Linked DNA regions of Homo sapiens: region 2 is linked to region 1. The links come from fine-mapping of genetic effects on gene expression. Tissue or cell type: naive CD4 T cells. Region 1 holds a variant in brackets; the other region holds the start of a gene. All regions are shown on one strand. Distances are between the middles of the regions. Region 1 overlaps FRRS1L (ferric chelate reductase 1 like). Region 2 holds the start of TMEM245 (transmembrane protein 245).

The links. PIP is the estimated chance that this variant, and not a neighbour inherited with it, causes the effect.
Region 2: it holds the start of TMEM245, and the variant in region 1 is fine-mapped to the expression of TMEM245 in naive CD4 T cells (Schmiedel 2018, PIP 0.95).

What each region holds. Positions count from the first base shown.
Region 1 is chr9:109,143,985-109,146,484 of GRCh38, reverse strand. All of the region lies in intron 3 of FRRS1L (ferric chelate reductase 1 like), which reads left to right. Among named protein-coding and RNA genes, the nearest start is that of FRRS1L, 22 kb to the left of the region's middle. The variant G/T (reference allele first, on the strand shown) is at 962.
Region 2 is chr9:109,118,505-109,121,320 of GRCh38, reverse strand. It overlaps TMEM245 (transmembrane protein 245), which reads left to right and starts at 1,374. Exons shown (of 18, transcript NM_032012.4): 1 at 1,374-1,986. The coding sequence starts at 1,408. RefSeq lists silencers at 1,225-1,274, 1,415-1,584, 1,935-2,044 and an enhancer at 1,695-1,744.

The sequences.
Region 1 (2,500 bases):
ACAGCTAGGTGTCCTCTAATTCACTTTGTTTCTGACACTACCTACCTGGAGATAGCATTAGATCCCACAGGTTAAGGGTTCAAAACCACAAGACTGCCCCCATTTCAGACACCCGTCACAAGCCCCAGGTTGTGACCTGTATTTCTGACCAGCCAGCTATAAATCTGGGGTGCCACCACCCTCTTCTGTTCAGTTAATCTCCTGGAGTGGCTCACAGAACTCAGAGAAACACTTTACTCATTTATTTATTTATTTATTTAATTTATTTGTTTGTTTGTTTGTTTGTTGAGATAGAGTTTCGCTCTTGTTGCCCAGGCTGGAGTGCAATGGTGTGACCTTGGCTCATTGCAGCCTGCACCTCCCAGGTTCAAGCGATTCTCCTGCCTCAGCATCCCAAGTAGCTGGGATTACGGGCACCTGCCACCACGCCCTGCTAATTTTTTGTATTTTTAGTAGAGACGAGGTTTCACCGTGTTGGCCAGGCTGTTCTCAAACTCCTGACCTCAGATGATCCACCCACCTCGACCTCTCAGAGTCCTGGGATTACAGGCATGAGCCACCGTATCCCACCTACTTTACTCATTTATTATGAAGGCTATTTTGAAGGATACAGATGAACAGTTAGATGGAAGAGACACTTAGGGGAAGGCATGGGGAAGGGAGTGAGGAGCTTCAACACCCTGTTGGGTGTGCTACCCTTCAGGCACCTCCATCTGTTCAGCAATCCAGAAGCTCATCCGAACCCTGTCCTTTTGGGTTTTTTTTATTTTTTAGACAGAGTCTCGCTCTGTTGCCCAGGCTGGAGTGCAATGGCATGATGTCGGCTCACTGCAACCTTTGCCTCCTGGGTTCAAGTTTGATTTTTCTGCCTCGGGCTCCCAACATAGCTGAGATTACAGGTGTAATCCCACCTGTAATACAAAAAACACCCAGCTAATTTTTGTAATTTTAGTAGAGATGG[G/T]GTTTCACACGTTGGCCAGGCTGGTCTCGAACTCCTGGCCTCAAGCAATCTGCCCACCCCAGCCTCCCAAATTGCCGGGATTACAGGCACTTCCGTGCCTGGCCTCTTTTTGAATATTTGTGGAGGCTTCATTATAAAAGGCATGTTGGATTACATCAGGGAAGTTACGAATTTGTTTCAACAGTTTTATCTTCCTCTGTACCCAGGGGCAAGAAAACCTCTGGACCTCAGACAGGACTGTGGCCAGGCACAGGCGGGGCCTCAGGTGCACAGGCAGCTGTCATCACTGGCCCCTGCTCTTCCCTGTGCCTTGCTGCGTTTTTCTCTCTTTCCTCTGGAGCCCCATTCTTTTGCCACTTCACTGGGCCAGGCTTGTTCCCAAACTATGAGACTTTCTCAGTCCTCTGTGCTTTTGCCCTTGTGGCTGTTTCTGCCTAGAGCACCCCGCCCTTCTCTTCACCTGGCCTATTCTGAGGCTTGTGTGGGGCTACAGGGGAGAGAGGAGGGCGGCTCAGACCAAAGTTCCAGCAGTGACAGTGCTGAGGGCTCAGATTTTGAATGTTTTGAAAGTAGCACTAACTGAGGCCAAGGCAGGTGGATCGCCTGAGGTCAGGAGTTCGAGAACAGCCTGGCCAACATAGTGAAACCCCGTCTCTACTAAAAATACAAAAAATTAGCTGGGTGTGGTGGCGGGCGCCTGTAATCCCAGCTACTCGAGAGGCTGAGGCGGGAGAATCGCTTGAACCCAGGAGGCGGAGGTTGCAGCGAGCTGAGATCGTGCCATTGTACTCCAGCCTGGGCAACGAGAATGAAACTCCGTCTCAAAAAAAAGAAAAAGAAAAAGAAAATAGCACTAACTGGCTGGGCATGGTGGCTCACACCTATAATCCCAGCACTTTGGGAGGCTGAAGCAGGTGGATTGCTTGAGGTCGGGAGTTCGAGACCAGCCTGGCCAACATGGTGAAACCCTGTCTCTACTAAAAACACAAAACTTAGCCGGGTATGGTGGCAGGTGCCTGTAATCCCAGCTACTCAGAAGGCAGAGGCATGAGAATTGCTTAGGAGGCAGAGGTTGCAGTGAGCTGAGATGGCGCCATTGCACTCCACCCTGAGCAACAGAGCGAGACTGTCTCAAAAAAAGAAAAAAAGTAGCACTGACTGACAGGATTTGCAAGTGGATTGGATATATGGGTTGTAGGTGTGTCGTAGGAAAAGACTGATAAGCAGTCTAAGCAGTGGCTGGTCTGGTGGCTTTATTCTTGGAGAGGTCACCAGGAGAATAGCCTTCAATGAGTTCCAGTCCAAGTAGTAAGACAATGGGTACCACTGGTAAGACTGCATGGATAGATATTAGTCTACTTATCTCCTGCCCTAGAGGCAGCAGGAGAAACAGCAGGGCATGCCACACCCAGAAGCTGGCTTGCATTGAAAGTGACCACTTCCTGTCCTAAATGCATTTGCACTCGTGGTAGGGCTGTTAAGATTAGGGGAGTGAGGCAGAGTGAGGAGCATTCAAATTTTGTTTGATATTTTGGTATC
Region 2 (2,816 bases), 25 kb after region 1:
CTCTTGTTAATTGGAATCTGCAAGTGGTGAGCGACTAAACCTGCGTTTTGGTTATAAAACTCCAAAGGCCATCTGAAATACTGAGACCTAAAACTTACAATCGAGATGGATAGGGAATTACTTTTTCCTTTACTTCCTTTACTAAATCCCTTTGTCTCCAAATCTATCAAGCAATAGTTTCTTTATCTGCAAACTGTGGATTATGTTACCTGTCTTGTCTGCTTTAGAAGGGAAACAAAAATTATGTAGAAATTAATAGGAATACTATTGAAACAGGAAAGGGACAACTTGCAAGGTTTGAAGCAATCACATGTTGAGTACTCAGTCAAGGCTTTCTTTTTTTTTTTAAATCAAAATGTTGATTGGGATATTTTATGGGTAGCAGGCTTGGATCCCAGCACTTTTCCAATAGGGGAACAGAAGCACCTTGTACCGCCCCAGAGTTTCCCTTCCCCCACACAATAACCCTAAAGCAAAAGCTATTATTATTATCATCGCCATGTGACAGAGGAAAACTTGAGATTGGGGGCTTAACTGACATTACATCAAGTCTCAAAAAGAAACAGTGGCAGTTTGAGACTTTGATCTACGACTCTTTTAAGAGTTTAGATTGCGTCCACAGCGAAACCTGCACAAACAGTTGTCAACAGCGGCTGCAAATTACAGGCTTATGAGGAACGTTTGAAAAATGCCAAGAGTTCTTTCCTCAGGCCAAATACTATGGTAGATAAAAGTATAGCCTTTGGAGCCAGAATCCCTGAGTTTGAATCTTGCCTGTGCCACTTGGTAGCTGTGTGACTCTGGCTGCGTACTTAACGGCTCTGTCTCAGTTTTTCTGTTGGTAAAATGAGGATAATAACACCTTCTTTGTAGGGTTGTTCTAAGGATTAAATGAGTTAATAGGAGTGAGCCACTTAGAATAGGGCCTGTTATATGGTAATCTCTATTTAAAATCCTGTCAGATACACCAAAGAAAACACTTTAAAAATATCTGTTAAATAAATCAGTAAAACAGAATCGGGGCATTGGTTCTTTAAAAGTACTCCCCCACGGTATTCTAGTATGCAGCTTGGGTTTTAATATCTGAATGTGGCGCCTTTTGGGATCTCGCCTCGCGAGAAATTGACATTAACGAATGAGTGAAAGGAGCTTCCCCCCCCCCCCCCCTCCAGGAAGATATAGACCCTGCAAACTTGTTAGCAGGACCTTGCGGACACCAAGGAGGCGGAGGCGTTTTCCCCATTTCCCCTTCGGGAGTTGTAGTTTCCTGCAAGCGCTTGGTGGGTCTGTAAACCAGCGGGGAACTACAACTCCCACAATCTCGCGCGCCTCCCGCCCTGCCTCCCGCCCGCGTTTCTAGCCCGACTCCCATTACCGCCCCTCGGGGGCGGCTGTGGCGGAGGAACGATGGCCGACGGCGGCGGCCCTAAGGACGCGCCAAGCCTGCGGAGCTCTCCCGGGCCGGCGCCGCGGGTCCCGCGCGCGGTCGGGCCGAGTGGCGGTGGCGGGGAGACCCCGCGGACCGCGGCGCTGGCGCTGCGCTTCGACAAGCCCATTAAGCAGGCCTTCTACAACACCGGGGCCGTGCTGTTCGTGTGCCTGTGCTGCGGCGCCGCGGTGCTGGTCTACTTCATCCTGGAGGCCTTCCTGCGGCCGCTGCTCTGGGCCGTGCTATGCGGCACTTTTCTGCACCCCTTCAAGAGCTCGCTGACGCGCCTGGGCCGCCACTGGCTGCAGCGCCTGCACCGCGCGCACACGCCCATCGTCCTGGCCGCGCTGCTCCTGCCGCTCTGCTTCGTCGACTACGGCGTCGAGGCCCTGGGCGAGCAGGCGCTGCGCCGCCGCCGCCTGCTCCTGCTGCTCGGCGCCGGCGGCCCGCTCCTGTACGGCCTCTACTGCCTCGGCAGCTACTTGGGCGTGCAGGTGCTGCTGGTGCACGCTGCCACGCTCATCTGCCGCGGGCTGGACTACTTCAGCAGCCTGTGGGTGAGTGAGCGGCAGTCCGCCCCCGTCCCCCGCCCGTGGTCCCGGCGCTCTGGGGTGCAATCCTGCAGCTGTTCCTCCCGGTGCAGGGGCGACGAGGGGCCACACCTGTGCTGCAGTGACCGTCCGTCTCCGCTTTCCTTCTCACACCTCAGGAATTTGGCGGACATTCTTCCAAAAAGGGGGCGGGCGTGATTTGAAACAGCCTCCCTGCTTTTCGCCTTGTTTCAATCCTAATAGGCCCTCTTAGGGGGACAGTGCCCTGGATTGAGAATCGTTATTTCGCTTTGCAGAGAGAGGCCTCAGAGCATGGCAGTGGGGCTTGGTTTTACTTCTGGTTGGAGAGGGCGGGGGTGCTTCGGCCACCCTCAGTTCTGCGCATCTGAATGTCAGAGCTGGAAGGGACCTTAGAGATTCTAGGCCAACTTGCCATCCTGCAGATAGGAAAGGTGACCTCTTACCAGGCTAGGGCTACTTAGGGACAAAGAGGGGTTTGGGTGTCTTAGATTTCTTACAAGTCCTAAAACAAAGCTTGCTTCACTGGCTGGTGCTGCCTCTCAGTTCAGGTGATTCCTGTATAATTTGTGCAAGGCACTGGGTGCTGAGCTGCCTGTGCTTCTTCCTCTCCACGCTTTACTTTTAGGTAACTGCTTTTGTTGTGCAGGGACTGGTGTACCACAGCACACCTCCTCCCGCCTGGAGTAAAGCAGCTGACCGCGTGAAGGGGAGAGACGTAGATTTGTGATGCTTGGATTAACCTGAGCTTACTCTTACAAAACCAGGGAGCTTTAGAATTGGAAAGATTTCAAAGGTAATCTAGTGACACAATTCCT